Linked DNA regions of Homo sapiens: region 2 is linked to region 1. Evidence: fine-mapped expression QTL. A gene starts in region 1. The other region holds a variant in brackets. All regions are shown on one strand. Distances are from middle to middle. Region 1 holds the start of MIR7-3HG (MIR7-3 host gene). Region 2 overlaps ATCAY (ATCAY kinesin light chain interacting caytaxin).

What was found.
Region 2: its variant is fine-mapped to the expression of MIR7-3HG in prefrontal cortex (CommonMind, PIP 0.95).

What each region holds. Positions count from the first base shown.
Region 1 is chr19:4,764,055-4,772,380 of GRCh38, forward strand. MIR7-3HG (MIR7-3 host gene) reads left to right here and starts at 5,051. Exons shown (of 3, transcript NR_027148.1): 1 at 5,051-5,297; 2 at 5,576-5,703; 3 at 8,110-8,326. MIR7-3 (microRNA 7-3) reads left to right here and starts at 6,616; the gene lies at 6,616-6,725. RefSeq lists a silencer at 5,483-5,777.
Region 2 is chr19:3,899,973-3,908,298 of GRCh38, forward strand. It overlaps ATCAY (ATCAY kinesin light chain interacting caytaxin), which reads left to right. Exons shown (of 13, transcript NM_033064.5): 3 at 2,515-2,573; 4 at 5,462-5,683; 5 at 7,762-7,947; 6 at 8,296-8,326. Among named protein-coding and RNA genes, the nearest start is that of ATCAY, 23 kb to the left of the region's middle. The variant C/CA (reference allele first, on the strand shown) is at 4,010.

The sequences.
Region 1 (8,326 bases):
CCAGGCAGATGTTGTCCAGAGTAGCCCTGTTTCCTTAATCCTCAGGGCTCCAGAAATTGTCCTTAGAAGAAAGAACAACAGACCCGCTGAGGTCACCATCTGTGCAGTCTTGATTTGTAAATGCTCATGAGGGTGGCAGGAAAGAGGTCTCTATAGTAACGGCTGAGGAAGGGGCTGCGTGTGTGTGTGTGTGTGTGTGTGTGTGTGTGTGTGTGTGTGTACGCGCACATACAGGGAGGAGGAATCACCCAAGGCCCTTATTCCTAGACTTTTCTTTTCTACCCTGATGAGCTATTAATTAATACTCATTGCTGGCTTGTTATTCCCAGAGATAATTAGCTACTGTTCCTAACTGGAGTCGTGGGGCCATTTTCTAAATAGATTCGTTCGCCTCTGCCCACCCACACCTGTCTATCTCCCGGGACACAAGGAAATGTTACAGAACACAGAGACCCAGAGAGGAGAAAAACTGAACAAAGGGGTCTCTCTGGGAAGCTCAGATTCCAAGTGAATAGACAAGAGCAGAGCCTGAATGAGCAAGGGCCCAGTGCACAGAAAGTTATTATAAAAATGCCAGCTATAGCTGAGAGTGGTGGCTCACGCCTGTAATCCCAACACTTTGGGAGGCCAAGGCAGGAGGATCACTTGAGGTCAGGAGTTCGAGACGAGCCTGGCCAACGTGGTGAAACCCCATCTCTACTAAAATACAATCGCTCTGGAAAAGTTTGACAGTTTCTTATGAAGTTAAATATACACTTCCCATATGACCCAGCCGTCACCCTCCTAGGTGTTACCCTGGAGATGTGAAAATTTATCGCCCACATGAAAGCCTGCATGAAAATATTTATAGCAGTTTTATTCCTAATAATCTCCAAACACAGAAGGTGTTCCAGAACCTAATGTCCTTGGACTGATGAATAGCTAAACAGGCCATAGTTCATCCACATGATGGAATACTACTTAATAATAAAAAGGAACTAACTCCGGGTTCACACAACAGCATGAATGGCTCTCCAGTGTATTCTACTGAGGAAAGGAAGCCAGGCCAGGCGTGGTGGCTCACACCTGTAATCCCAGCAATTTGGGAGACCGAGGTGGGTGGATCGCTTGAGGTCAGGAGTTCAACACCAGCCTGGCCAACATAGTGAAAACCCATCTCTACTAAAAATACAAGAATTAGCTGGGTGTGGTGGCGGACACCTGTAATCCCAGCTACTCGGGAGGCTGAGGCAGGAGAATCGCTTGAATCCGGGAGGCAGAAGTCGCAGTGAGTCGAGATCATGCCACTGCACTCCAGCATGGGCAACAGAGTGAGATTTCATCTCTAAAATAAAATAAAATAATAAAAAATAAAAATAAAAAGTAGCAAACGTGCATGTGGGCGGAGAATGTACACACTTATATATGCATGTACTTCTGGAAGGGCACAGGAAATGAAATGAACAATTGATAAGAGATTAAACCTTGGGGTTGGCAGACTGGGGTCCCCAACTCCCACACCCTCTCCCTGTGGTCCTTGGGCAAGCCCCTTCCCCTCTCTAGCCATCTATAAAACATGCATATCAGCCAGGCATGATAGCTCATGCCTGGAATTTCAGCACTTTGGGAGGCCAAGGTGGGAGGATTGCTTGAGCCCAGGAGTTCAAGACCAACCTGGGCAACATAGGGTGACCCTGTTTCTACAAATAATTTTTAAAATTAGCTGGGCATAGCGGTGCACACCTACAGAAGGCTGAAGTAGGAGGATTGCCTGAGCCAGGAGGCAGAGACTGCAGTGAGCCATGATTGCACTACTGCACTCCAGCCTGGGTCACAGACTAAGACTCTGTCTTAAAAAAAAAAAGGTCTTTCTTCCTTTTTTTTTTTTTTTTTTTTTTTTTTTGAGAAGGAGTCTTGCTCTGTTGCCCAGGCTGGAGTGCAGTGGCACGATCTTGGCTCACTGCAACCTCCTTCTCCCGGGTTCAAGTGATTCTCCTGCCCGAGCCTCCCAAGTAGCTGGGATTACAGGCACCCGCCACTATGCCCAGCTAATTTTTTGTATTTTTAGTAGAGACGAGGTTTCACCATGTTGACCAGGCTGGTCTCGACCTCCTGACCTCGTGATTTGCCCGCTTTGGCCTCCCAAAGTGCTGGGATTACAGGCATGAGCCACTGTGCCCAGTCAAAAGGCCTGCTTTCCTTTCTCTCTCTCTCTCTCTCTCTCTCTCTCTCTCTCTCTCTCTCTCTCTCTCTCTGTCTATTTTGAGATGGAGTTTTGCTCTTGTTGCCCAGGCTGGAGTACAATGGTGCAATCTTGGCTCATTGCAACTTCAAACTCCTGGGTTCAAGCGATTCTCCTGCCTCAGCCTCCTGAGTAGTTGGGATTACAGGCATGCACCACCATGCCCAGCTAATTTTTGTATTTTTAGTAGAGATGGGGTTTCAACATATTGTCCAGTCTGGTCTCAAACTCCTGACCTCAGGTGATCCACTTGCCTTGGCCTCCCAGAGTGCTGGGATTACAGGCATCCAGCCAAAAAGAACTTTCTTTCTTTTTCTTTCTTTCTTTCCTTCTTTCTTTTTCTTTCTTTCTTTCTTTCTTTCTTTCTTTCTTTCTTTCTTTCTTTCTTTCTTTCTTCTTTCTTTCTTCTTTCTTTCTTTTTCTTTCTTTTTTCTCTCTTTCTCTTTCTCCTTCCTTCCTTTCTTTGTTCTTCTTCTTCTTTTTTTTTAACAGAGTTTTGCTCTTATTGCCTAGGCTGGAGTGCAGTGGCACAATCTTGGCTCACTGCAACCCCCACCTCCTGGGTTCAAGCGATTATCTTGCCTCAGCCTCCCAAGTAGCTGGGATTAGAGGCACGTGCCACCATGCCGGCTAATTTTGTATTTTTAGTAGAGTCAGGGTTTCTCCATGTTGGTCACGCTGTTCTCAAACTCCCGACCTCAGGTGATCCACCCACCTCTGCTTTCCAAAGTGCTGGGATTACAGGCGTGAGCCACCATGTCCGGCCCTTTTTCAATTTTTTTATTATTTTTATTTTTTTTATACAAGGTCTCGCTCTGTCACCCAGGCTGGAGTGCAGTGGCATGATCTTGGCTTACTGCAACCCCTGCCTCCCGGGTTCAAGCGATTCTCCTGCCTCAGCCTCTGTAGTAGCTGGGACTACAGGCACCCGCCACCGCACTCGGCTAATTTTTGTATTTTTAGTAGAGACGAGGTGTCACCATATTGGCCAAGCTGGTCTCGAACTCCTGACCTCAGGTCATCCACCCGCCTCGGCCTCCCAAAGTGCTGGAATTACAGGGGTGAGTCAACGCACCTGGCTGGGATCTATCTCATGGGGCTGCCCTGAGGCCTTCAGATCACTCAGCAGGTAGAATGTCTGGCACTGACCCTGGCACAGAGTAAAAGCTTAGGGAAGGGGAGAGAGAAAGGGTGGCAGGTCTTCCTGTGCAACCTGAGGAACTTCACTTTTGTCCTGGCCTGAATGATCAGGTCCTGTACAGCTGTCCCTGATTTATATCCTAACTGTCCCTTCTATGCTTGCTCACCCCCCAGGGCCTGTTCTTTCCCCCACCCCCACCAGGGCCCTTACACTGACTGTTCCTTCAACCCAATGCCCATACCAACATGTGAGCAGAGTTTTCATGTCTTTACCCTCCCTAAAGGCAAGGTTGGTTGCTGAATTCATGTATGTATCTCCAGTGCCTAGTACAACAAGTTTGTTGAGCAAATAAATGGGTGGAATAGATCAGGAAAGAATAACAGCTGCATTATTAGAAAACTTACCGTAAACAGACATGATTGCTAGTGCCATGCCAAGCCATATTGGGACCTCAGGCAAAAGGAAAAGTCAGAAAGGCTGGTTCTGCCTTTATTTACATTTTTGATATTTTGTTCATTGTGGATTTTGGCATACATTTTGATTTCTTAAAACATTGCATCGATTTTTTTTTGAGACAGGGTCTTGCTCTGTCACCTAGGCTGGAGTGCAGTGGTGCAATCATAACTCACTGCAGCTTCGACCTCCTGGCCTCAAGTGATCCTCTCACCTCAGCCTCCCAAGTAGCTGAGACCACAGGTGCCATTCTCTCTCTCTCTCTCTCTCTCTCTCTCTGTTTCTCTCTTTCTCTCTCCCTCTCTCCCTCTTTCTCTCTCAGAAACGGGGTCTCACTATGTTGCCCAGGCTCATCTTGAAATCCTGGCCTCAAGTGATCCTCCCACCTTGGCCTCCCAAAGTGCTCAGATTACAAGCATGAGCCATTGCACCTGGCCTGAAATATTATTTACCTTGATTATTGAGTTTTTTGGTGCCCCTTTAAGTTTTGCACCTGAGGCTGGTGCCTCACCCAACTCACATTAGCCCCTGCCCTGATTATTTCTAACATGCAATCCACACCATATCATTAGTTCCTCAGCAAATACTCTACTATTATCACTACTTCACAGTTGCAAAAACTGAGGCACAACTGTGCCCAATGTCCCAAAGGAAGGAGAAGAAAAATCTGAACTTGAACCCCAGTTTCTTCGTTTTTTGGTTCAGAGCCTGCCCAGTATAGCACTACAATAAGCTGAATTTTATAAATTGGGTTTTGAGTTAAGGAATCAAAAGCTTCAGGCTTAAGTCCCACCTCTGCCCCAGAGTCTTCTGAGCCCTCCATTTTCACAGACGTCAGTTGCCCTAGGTGGAACTGGACTTTAATATTCTCCACATCCCTTATTTTTTCCCAAAACAGTTTACCAGCTTTTTCTTTCCTGAACCAGGAGCAATAGCAAAAATTGGGAATGGGAAGAAACAGGTACCAGCCAGGACACCTGAACGAACTTGGAGCTCAGGAACCCAGGAGGGGATTGGAGAGAGTGGGGAGACTCCATGGTCCACAATGAATGCTCCTTCCCCATCCGAAAAAATCCCCTAGCCCAGTTTTTGGGCAGATGCCAGACTTTTATTCTGAAGCGTGGGCCACAACCTATGAGGTAATCTTTGGAGCTTCATTCTGAGGCGGAATCCCATTGGCCAGTTGGGGAAGCCCCTCCCAGGATTCCTGGCGCTCCGCCTTCCCTGAAGCCTATAAAAGCGCAGGTCCCCGCCTCGGCAGCCACGGGACACCTGCATCTGCCAACAAGACTGGAAGCAGGTGAGGCACACAGAGGGGGAGGCCCGCAGCTGCGTGGGAGGAGGGGTGGTCTGAGGGACGTGGGATGCCGGGAATGAGGCTGGTTTGCAGGTTGGCGCATGGACATTTTCCCAGAAAGGGACAGAGACGGCGAAGTTTGACGGTCTGGAAAGCAGAGACCAGCAGGGCTGACTGCTTGGGAGGTAAGTTCTGGGGACATGGTACAGGGTGAGGAGCAGGTATCAGTGCTAGTTGCGACCCCTCTGTGTCTCCCCCCCGCCACCCCATTGCCATTCTGAAGCTCCCCAGGAAGAAGCTAGGAGGGGAAATAAATTGAGTGGGGGTGGGGTTTCCCAAGAATCGGAGGAACCGAGAACGAAGAGGGGTGGGGGAACGGGGAAAGAGAGAGGAAAATCAAGTTTTCTTCAGCACGAGGGACAGCTCTCCACCGACCGAAGGAGGAGAATGCTATTTATTTCAGCACCAAATATCCGGACAGCGCCTCTCGGGAGGTCCGAGAAGAGAACCGCGATCTGTTTCAGCACCGGGGCTCAGGACAGTTCCCAGCGGGCTCCGTTTCGTCTCCAGAACCCTGGACAGCTCCTCCAGGTAACGGGAGAGCCCTTTGACCCTGATTTTGCAGGGGGAGGACGAGAGAGGGTGGTCTGAGGTGCCTGGCATTTCTGGAGACCTGCACCTCATGTAATGGATTTTTAAACAAAGTATTTTCCAGATAAGCACACACAGAAGTCTGCAATTTTCTTTTTTTTTCGAGACGGAGTCTTGCTCTGTCGCCCAGGCTGGAGTGCAGTGGCACGATCTCGGCTCACTGCAACCTCTGCCTCCTGGGTTCAAGGGATTCTCCTGCCTCAGCCTCCCGAGTATCTGGGATTACAGGCACATGCCACCACTCCCGGCTAATTTTTGTATTCTTAGTAGAGACGGGGTTTCACCATGTTGGCCAGGCTGGTCTCAAACTCTTGACCTCTTCATCCGTCCACCTCAGCCTCCCAAAGTGCTAGGATTACAGGCGTGAGTCACTGCGCCTGGCCCAAGTCCGGAATTTTCAACAGGTAAGATACCTCACTGGGGTAACAGCTGCCTGCTAAGATGACATTATGGTGTCTCTTCCAGACTTCGGTGAGAAACCTTGTGCCAAGCATTTTACATACATCATATCATGCCATCTTCAACCCTAGGACATGGGTGTTACTGTGCCCATGTGACATTTGGGGAACCCAAGGCCCTGAGAAAGGCAGAAAAATAACCCACGCAGGGACTCTCAGCCCACAAGTGAAGCTGTAAGTCAACCCCACCAGTCCAACTCCAAATCCCATGTCTCTGACGTGCCTGGGTGGGAGGTGGGCCCTTGGAGATCAGACCCTGCTTCTCTCCAGGAGAACCGGGAATGGAAAACAGGGAGGCAGCACAGAGGCAGGAAACTCAGGTGTCATAGCTTGGCTCAGGTGAGAAGGAGGAGCTGGGCAGGGGTCTCAGACATGGGGCAGAGGGTGGTGAAGAAGATTAGAGTGGCTGTGGTCTAGTGCTGTGTGGAAGACTAGTGATTTTGTTGTTCTGATGTACTACGACAACAAGTCACAGCCGGCCTCATAGCGCAGACTCCCTTCGACCTTCGCCTTCAATGGGCTGGCCAGTGGGGGAGAACCGGGGAGGTCGGGGAAGAATCGCTTCCACTCGGAGTGGGGGGGCTGGCTCACTCCAGGCGATACAGGCACAGGCAAAGGAGGGAAGCAAACAAGGACATACATCCTGTGCTCATACAGCCATGCACCATGTATGGGGTTTGTCACATCACTCGTACGCCCCCACAAGCCTGGAGATAGAACATACCTGACTCTAAACCCAAGACCTCTAACCACCTTATGGCGCTTTCCTGGGAGACCCAATGAGGGAATGACATTTAAAGCCCTCCCTAGACCAGAGTTCTCAGGGTACTTTTCTATTAAAAAAAAAATTATTATTTTTTTGGCCGGGTGGCTCACGCCTGTCATCCCAGCACTTTGGGAGGCCAAGGCAGGTGGACCACTTGAGGCCAGGAGTTCAAGACCAGCCTGGACAACATGGTGAAACTCCATTTCTCCTAAAAATACAAAAATTAGCTGGGCGTTGTGGCACACACCTGTAGTCCCAGCTACTCGGGAGGCTGAGGCATGGGAATCCCTTGAACCCAGGAGGCAGAGGCTGCATGACCCAAGATTGCACCACTGCACTCCAGCCTGGGCAACAGAGAGAGATTCTGTCTCAAAAAACATTTTTTTTTTCTTTTTTGTAAAGACATGGTCTCCTGCCTCAGCCTCTCAAAGTGCCAAGATTACAGGTGTGAGCCACCGAACCCAGCCTAAGGATACTTTTCAATAAAAGTTCCAGAAGTGGGCTGGGTGTGGGAGCTCATACCTGTAATCCTAACATTTTGGGAGGATGAGATGGGAGGATTGCTTGAGTACAGGAGTTTGAGACCAGCCTGGGCAATATAGTGAGACCCCGTGAGTTGACACATGCCTGTAGTCCCAACTACTTAGGAGGTGGGAGGAACACTTGAGCCTGGGAGATCAAGGCTGCAGTGAGCCATGACTGCACCACTGCACTCCAGACTGGGCAACAGAACAACACCCTGTTTCAAAAAAAAAGTTTCAGAAAAGATTCCTTTCCTGTCTGCTACCCATCAGTGTCATGGGCCAATCATAGGACAAGTGTGAACTTGTGCCCAGTGGTGACTTATGACATCATAAAGGCTCACCACCTTTGCCAGACATGGTGGCTCACACTTGTAATCCCAGCACTTTGGGAGGCCAAGGTGGGAGGATAGCTTGAGCTCAGGAGTTCGAGACCAGCCTGGGCAACATAGCAAGACCTCATCTCAGTAAAAAATAATAAATAAATAAATAAATATATAAGACTCACTCCCAATTCTCTGCAACACCCTAATCAAGTGAAAAACTGCACATGGTTACCTGTTCTCCAGCCTCAGGGCTTTTGCCTCTGCTGTTCCTGCAGCTTGGAATGCACTCCCTCCACCTCCAACCAGAGCTCCCCACAACTGACCCTGCCTTCTTCTGCAAGCTCCATTTCATCAAGGGAAACGATCCTTATTGCCTCACCATTTCCCACGTGAAGTCTGTATTGACATTCTCATAGACCTGGGATATTGTGTCTGCAGCACATAGTCCAATTATTTTCATGTTATCTACTGACAGGTCTATTTGTCTCCCTG
Region 2 (8,326 bases), 860 kb before region 1:
CTGTAGACTGGGAACCTAGTTTCTCCCATAATTAACATCTTATATTAGCTGTGTATATTTTATATTTGTCACAATTGATGAATCAATATTGATACTATTGGTTATTGATAATCAACATTGATCAATAACAATATTGATCAATATTGGTTATTAGTTACCAAAGTCCATGCTTTTTTAGATTTTCAAAGTTTTTCCTAATGTCCTCTTTTTTTTTCTTTTCTCTCTTTTTTTTTTTAAGAGACAGGGTCTCACTCTGTCATCCAGGCTGGGGTGCAGTGGTGCCATCATACCTCACTGCAGCCTCCGCCTCCCAGGCTCAAGCAGTCCTCCCACCTCAGCCTCCAGAGTAGCTGGGACTACAGGCACCACCACGTCCAGCTAATCTTTGTAATTTTTGTAGAGACAGAGTTACGCCATGTTGCCCAGGCTGGCCTAATGTCCTTTTCCTTCTGCCCCACAACCCCATCCAGGATCCCAGATGACATTTAGTTATCACATCTCCTGACACTCCTCTGGACTGTGGCAGTCTCCCTGTCTTTCTTGTTTTGATGCCCTTGATAGTTTTGTTTGTTTGTTTGTTTTGAGATGGAGTCTCACTCTGTCACCCAGGCTGGAGAGCAGTGGCACGATCTCGGCTCACTGCAACCTCCGCCTCCCGGGTTCAAGCGATTCTCCTGCCTCAGCCTCCTGATAGCTGGGATTACAGGTGTCCTCCACCATGCCTGCCTAATTTTTGTATTTTTAGTAGAGATGGCGTTTCACCATGTTGTCCAGGCTGGTCTCGAATTCCTGAGCTCAAGTGATCCTCCTGCCTCAGCCTCCCAAAGTGCTGGGATTACAGGCGTGAGCTGCTGCGCCTGGCCCATCCTGTATTTTTTGGAATGACATCACTATACACAGCCTACACAGAGTTATCCTTCATCTTTTTTTTTTTTTTTTTTTTTTTTGAGACAGAGTCTTGCTCTGTGGCCCAGGCTGGAGTGCAGTGGCACGATCTCGGCTCACTGCAAGCTCCGCCTCCTGGGTTCATGCCATTCTCCTGCCTCAGCCTCCTGAGTAGCTGGGACTACAGGCACCTGCCACCACGCCCCGCTATTTTTTTTGTACTTTTAGTAGAGACGGGGTTTCACCATGTTAGCCAGGATGGTCTCGATCTCCTGACCTCGTGATCCGCACGCCTCGGCCTCCCAAAGTGCTGGGATTACAGGCGTGAGCCACCGCACCCGGCCTATCCTTCATCTTCTTGAGGGCAGAACTGTACATAAACTATTTCCAATTCTTCTGCACAAGAAATGTGTCTCTTCTCTCCTGTTTATTTGTTCAGTGACTTATTTATATCCGTATGGACTCATAGACATTTATTTTACATCTTGGGTTATAATTCAATATTTCATTATTTATTTGGTTGCACAAACTGTTCCAGCATTGACATAGAGATCTCTTCTGGTTGACTCAGGTTTTTGTGGGGGTTTTATCTATTTATTTATTTTTAATACTTTTTGCTGCATTTGAGAGTCAACAACTCATCAGAGACCAAATCCCACAGGGTCGCCCTAGAGAGAATTCAACTTACTAACTTATTTCAAAGTTTTTGAAGTCATGTGATGCTGGGGAAAAACCTTCATTCTCCTCAAGCCGTGCAAAAATCTCCAAAAGGCTTAATATAAATTTGATTATCTAAAAGAAGCCCTTCAGCCCTGATGCGTTATAATTTTCTTCCTCTGCTAAAGAAAAAACATGCTGGGCGGGCGCGGTGGCTCATGCCTGTAATCCCAGCACTTTGAGAGGCCGAGGTGGGCAGATCACAAGGTCAGGAGTTCCAGACCAGCCTGGCCAATATGGTGAAACCCCGTCTCTACTAAAAATACAAAAATTAGCCGGGCATGGTAGCGGGCACCTGTAGTCCCAGTTTACTTAGGAGGCTGAGGCAGAAGAATGGCCTGAACCCGGGAGGCGGAGGTTGCCGTGAGCCGAGATCATGCCACTCTACTCCATCCAGCCTGGGCGACAGAGCGAGACTCTGTCTCAAAAGAAAAAAATAAAAGAAAAAGAAAAAACATGCGCTTGTGGTGGCTCACGCCCGTAATCCCAACACTTTGGGAGGCTGAGGTGGGAAGATGGCTTGAGCCCAGGAGTTCAAGAGCAACCTGGGCAACATAGTGAGACCCCATCTCTACAAAAAACCAAAAAACTACAAAAATTAGCCAGCCGTGGTGGTGTGCACCTGTAGTCCCAGCTACTCAGGAGGCTGAGGCAGGAGGATCTCTTGAGCCCAGGAGGTTGAGGCTGCAGTGAGCCATGATCACGCTACTGCACTCCAGCCTGGGCGATACAGTGAGGCTCTGTCTCCAAAAAAATGTATATATTTAGGTCCAGTGATTCTCCAGAACTAAATGTGTTTTGCTTTTGTTCTTGTCTGACTCGCCTGGCTGGACCTGTCTGGGCCACTCCACTGTCCTCTGCCTGAATCTCTGGTGCCCGGCGACTGATGCCTGTTCCTGGATGGGTCCGCAGGCCACTCCCAGAAGAGACGGGGGTGGAACTGCTTGGCAGCCCGGTGGAAGACACATCCTGTAAGTTTCCACGTCCACAGAAGGGCGGAAACAGGCTCAGTGTTTCCGGGTTTCAGCCCTGCCTGGGGCTGTAACTGTAGAAATGTCAGAGGCCACACACCGTGGGTAGAATGTTCTGTCCTGGGGTCTATGGTGGAAGTGGCCGTGGTGGGTGAGAGACACAATGGATGATGGCGCTCTCATGAAGCCAGCACGCTGTGTTGCTGTGTGTCCCTGTGCTAGTCACTCAGCCTCTCTGTGCCCCAATGCCTCATCTACTAAATGTAGGTAGCGAGCTTCTCGCAGAGGGGGCATGTAAGGATTAAATGAGGTGATGCCAAATGCCCTGGAGGCACAAAGTCAGCACAGCCAAGGGTGCACTGGGAGGCTCTGCTATCTGGAGCTCTAAACATATACATTTTAATGTGTAATACCTTATATTAGACCCAAATATATACATTTTTTGGGAGACCGGGTCACACTCTGTCATCCAGGCTGGAGTGCAGTGGCGTGATCATGGCTCACTGCAGCCTCAACCTCCAGGGCTCAAGAGATCCTCCTGCCTCAGCCTTCTGAGTAGCTGGGACTACAGGTGCACACCACCATGGCTGGCTAATTTTGGTAGTTTTTGTAGAAATGGGATCTAGCTATGTTGCCCAGGCTGCTCTTGAACTCCTGGGCTCAAGCCATCTTCTTGCCTCAGCCTCCCAAAGTGCTGGGATTACGGGCGTGAGCCACCACGCCTGGCATGTTTTTTCTTCAGCAGAGGAAAAAAATCATAATGTATCAGGCTCTGAAGCCCCAGATCCCGGGGATGGGAGTCCTGGGCGGCCAGAGGAGAGTTTTAGCCGTAACCTGGCGATTGCAACGTGCCTCCGGAGGCAGGGAAAGGGCCCAGGTTGGCACCGTGGGGAGAGGTGGGGTCTGGGGAGGACCTGGCAGCCAGCCCCACTTAACGACATTCAGTTAAGCAGAATATGGAAAATAAACCTGTGAGGGCCAAACAAAATTTTTTTGGAGACAGAGCCTCACTGTATCGCCCAGGCTGGAGTGCAGTAGCGTGATCATGGCTCACTGCAGCCTCAACCTCCTGGGCTCAAGAGATCCTCCTGCCTCAGCCTCCTGAGTAGCTGGGACTACAGGTACACACCACCATGGCTGGTTAATTTTTGTAGTTTTTTGTAGAGATGGGGTCTCACTATGTTGCCCAGGCTGCTCTTGAACTCCTGGGCTCAAGCCATCTTCCCACCTTGGCCTCCCAAAGTGTTGGGATTACGGGCGTGAGCCACTGCACCCGGCCGCCTGTCTCTATTTAAAAAGAAAAAAAAAAAAGGCAGGTCACCGTGGCTCACGCCTGTAATCCCAGCACTTTGGGAGGCCGAGGCGGGCAGATCACGAGGTCAGGAGTTTGAGACCAACCTGGCCAACATGGTGAAGCCCCGTCTCTACTAAAGATA[C/CA]AAAAAAAAAAAAAAAAAAAAATTAGCCGGGCATTGTGGCACTTGCCTGTAATCCCAGTCACTCAGGAGGCTGAGGCATGAGGATCGCTTGAACCCAGGAGACGGAGGTTGCAGCAAGCTGAGATTGTGCCATTGCACTCCAGCCTGGGTGACAAGGCGAGACTCTGTCTAAACAAAACAAAACAAAAAAAGATTAGTCGGGCTTGGTGGCGCATGCCTGTAATCCCAGCTACTTGGGAGGCTGAGGTGGGAGAATCACTTGAACCTGGGAGGCGGAGGTTGCAGTGAGCTGAGATCCTACCATTGTACTCCAGCCTGGGTAACGGAGTGAGACTCCATCTCAAAAAAATAAATACATAAATAAAACAAAATAAATTAGCAGACTTTGGATTAAAGCAGGCAGCCATCTGTGATGTGGGTGGGCCTCATCTAATCAGTTGAAGGTTTTAAGAGAAACAGACTGAGGTTCCCCCAGGCAGAGACAATTCTGCCTGCGGACGGTTTTGCAACATCAACTCTTCCCTAGGCGTCCCGCCTGCTGGCCTGCCCTGCCGATTGAGGACTTGTCAGTCTCTGTGATCACACGAGCTAATTCCTTAAAATAAATTTCTCCCTCTCTCTTTTTTTCCATACATATAGGAAAAAAATATGTATACACACACACACACACACACACACGTCCTATTGGATTTGTTTCCCTGGAGCACTCTGATTAAAATAGGAGACTATCCTGGATCCTGTATTATCCAGGTGGCCTGACATCGTTACAGGATCCTCATGAGTGGAGACAGGAGGGTGAGAGTCAGAGAAAGCCTAGAAGAAGATGGGCTGCTTTCACAATTTGTCTGCACAAGAGATATGTCTCTTCTCCTTTATTTATTTATTTATTTATTTTTGAGATAGAGTTTCACTCTGTCACCCAGGCTGGAGTGCAATGGTACGATCTTGGCTCACTGTAACCTCCGCCTCCTGGGCTCAAGTGATTCTCCTGCCTCAGACTCCCAAGCAGCTGGGATTACAGGCGCCACCACTGTGCCCGGCTAATTTTTATATTTTTAGTAGAGATGGGGTTTCGCCATGTTGGCCAGGCTGGTCTCGAACTCCTGACCTCAGGTGATCTGCCCGCCTCGGCCTCCAAAGTGCTGGGATTACAGGCGTGAGCCACCGCACCCGGCCCAAAGTCAGGCTTTGAACTCATGTCTGCCCAATGTCCAAGCATCCATCCCCTTAATCTCTGAGGCTTGCCCACAGGACAGAGGTTATAACATTCACCCCTGTCAGGATGATGTCGGTTTAATTCTGCCCACCCCCGCCAATGGCATGGATACAGAAGGGAGCCCACCCTCTCTTCCCATTCCTGCATGATGAAACAGCTTCCACCAGGTAGGAAAATGGGGGGAAGGTAAAAGAGAGAAAGCAAAGATGTTTTCCATTTTTCTCATTTCCCTGCAGCTCCTCCCAACACGCTAAATTTCAACGGAGCGCATCGTAAGAGGAAGACGCTGGTGGCCCCAGAGATCAACATTTCTCTGGATCAGAGTGAGGGGTCCCTGCTGTCCGATGACTTCTTGGATACCCCTGATGACCTGGATATTAACGTGGATGACATCGAGACCCCCGATGAGACCGACTCGCTGGAGTTCCTGGGGAATGGCAACGAACTGGAGTGGGAAGGTAAAGTTCAGGGTCTCTCTGGGGCCTGCTGGAGCCCACCCCCCCCACCCCACCTTTCCGTCTCTGGATTCCCATAGGCTCAGAGAGTCACAAGTGGGGCAGGGGCTCTAAGCAGTCTAGCCTTAAACCCAGGAGATCAAGACTGCAGTGAGACGTGATCATGCCACTGCACTCCAGCCTGGACAACAGAGTGAGACCCTGTCTCAAAAATAAAATTTTTAAAAAAGAGAGAGGTGGCTGGGCGCAGTGGCTCATGCCTGTAATCCTAGCACTTTGGGAGGCCGAGGCGGGCAGATCACGAGGTCAGGAGATCGAGACCATCCTGGCTGACACAGTGAAACCCCGTCTCTACTAAAATACAAAAAATTAGCCAGGCATGGTGGCGGGCACCTGAAGTCCCAGCTACTCAGGAGGCTGAGGCAGGAGAACGGTGTGAACCCAGGAGGCCGAGCTTGCGGTGAGCCAAGATTGTGCCACTGCACTCCAGCCTGGGCGACAGAGCGAGACTCCGTCTCAAAAAAAAAAAAAAAGAGAGAGAGAGGTTGGTGAATGGGTACCAACATACAGTTAGACAGAAGGAATAAGTTCTATTGTTCGATAGCAGAATAGGAGGGGTGCCAGGAGGAGGGTCCATCCGCTCCTGCGACTGTTTTTTTTTTTTTTTTGAGACAGAGTCTCACTCTGTTGCCCAGGCTGGAGTGCAGTGGTGTGATCTCAGCTCACTGCATCCTCCACCTCCCGGGTTCAAGCGATTCTTTTGCCTCAGCCTCCCGAGTAGCTGGGATTACAGGCATGCACTACCACTTCCGGCTGATGTTTATATTTTTAGTAGAGATGGGGTTTTCCCATGTTGCCCAGGCTGGTCTCAAACTCCTGACTTCAAGTGATACACCCACCTCGGCCTCCCAAAGTGCTGGGATCACAGGTGTGAGCCACGGCGCCCAGCCTGCCCCTGCAATTTGATGCATATTTTTCTTGTGGGCTTGTGAATTTTTCTGCAGAACGTGGCTTTCATCAGAATCTCAAAGGCGACCAAGATCCCAACAAACTGCCCTCGATGTATGCAACAAATACTTTTTGACCATTTACTCCAGGGCAAGTCCTGATTCAGGCGTGGGGTATATGGCAGGGCTATGATAAGAAGAGATGGTCCTGGTCCCTACCTGCACACACAGATCATCAGAAAGACAGACCACGAAAGGCCAGGCGCAGTGACTCACGCCTGTAATCCCAGCACTTTGGGAGGCTGAGGTGGGCAGATCACCTGAGGTCAGGAGTTTGAGACCAGCCTGGCCAACATGGTGAAGCTCCATCTCTACTAAAAATACAGAAATTAGCCGGGCATGGTGGCGTGCGTAGTCCCAGCTACTCGGGAGGCTGAGGCAGGAGAATCGCTTGAACTCTGGAGGCAGAGGCTGCAGTGAGCAGAGATCGCACCACTCCACTCCAGCCTGGGCGATGGAACAAGACTCTCTCAAAAAAAAAAAAGAAAGAAAAAAAAAAATTAAGGACAATGTAGTGGCTCATTCCTGTAATCCCAGAGCTTCGGGAGGCCAGGGTAGGAGGATCGCTTAAGGCCAGGAGTTTGAGACCAGCCTGGGCAACATATTGAAACCCCATCTCTACAAAAATATAAAAATTAGCTGGGTGTGGTGGTGCACAACTGTAGTCCCAGGTATCTGGGAGGCTGAGGCAGGAGGACTGCTCTCTGTGTGCCAGGCTCCTGGGAGAGTAAAAACCAAGCATGCATGCCCCGAGTATCCTCGTGGTTTGATGAAGCAGATGCATTCACCAGCTCTGAGAAGCTCCAGGACACAGGTCCTTAACCAACAGAGTGCCCTGGGAGGCCAGCAAAGGGAATGTCCAGAAAGGCTTCCTGGAGGAGGCGGCATTTGAGCCAGGCCTTGAAAGGGGAGTAGGAGAGGAAAATGGGTCAGCAGGGCAGCCAGGTGGGGAGAAGCGAAGGACTTGTGGGTCCCGGCAGCGAGGGAGGTGGGAGAGGGGAAGGAAGGCTGAGCAGGAGGGCAGGAGATATCCGGACTCTGGCGTCCATGCGACTCTCCGCCACCTGCTTCTAGACGACACCCCCGTGGCCACCGCCAAGAACATGCCCGGGGACAGCGCGGATCTATTTGGGGACGGCACGACGGAGGACGGCAGCGCCGCCAACGGGCGCCTGTGGCGGACAGTGATCATCGGGGAGCAAGAGCACCGTATAGACCTGCACATGATCCGGCCTTACATGAAAGTGGTCACCCACGGAGGTGAGACCCGCCCCCCGGTGCCCCCTTGGGGCTCCAGCCCGGCCCACTGGGCAACAGGGGGTTCGTCAGTGCCCCTCTCTGATGCACGGGGATGTTAAGCCGTCAACTCGCTTCGGGTGGACGGACTGTGGGCAAGGCGTGCATGGTCAGGGAGGCGCACTGGGGGCCCCTGATGGTCGCTGTCACTCCTCAGCGAAGGCAGAGACTGGCTAAGGGGTCGCCGGCTGCTGTGGCTCGGAGCCATGCCCTCCCGAGCGTGTGGGCACCGGGACGTGGTGGGTGGTGCGCGGGAGGCAGCTCAGGGCTGGGAGAGGACTCTGACGTTGCCGATCGGCTGCCTCTCCTCAGGGTACTACGGCGAAGGCCTCAACGCCATCAT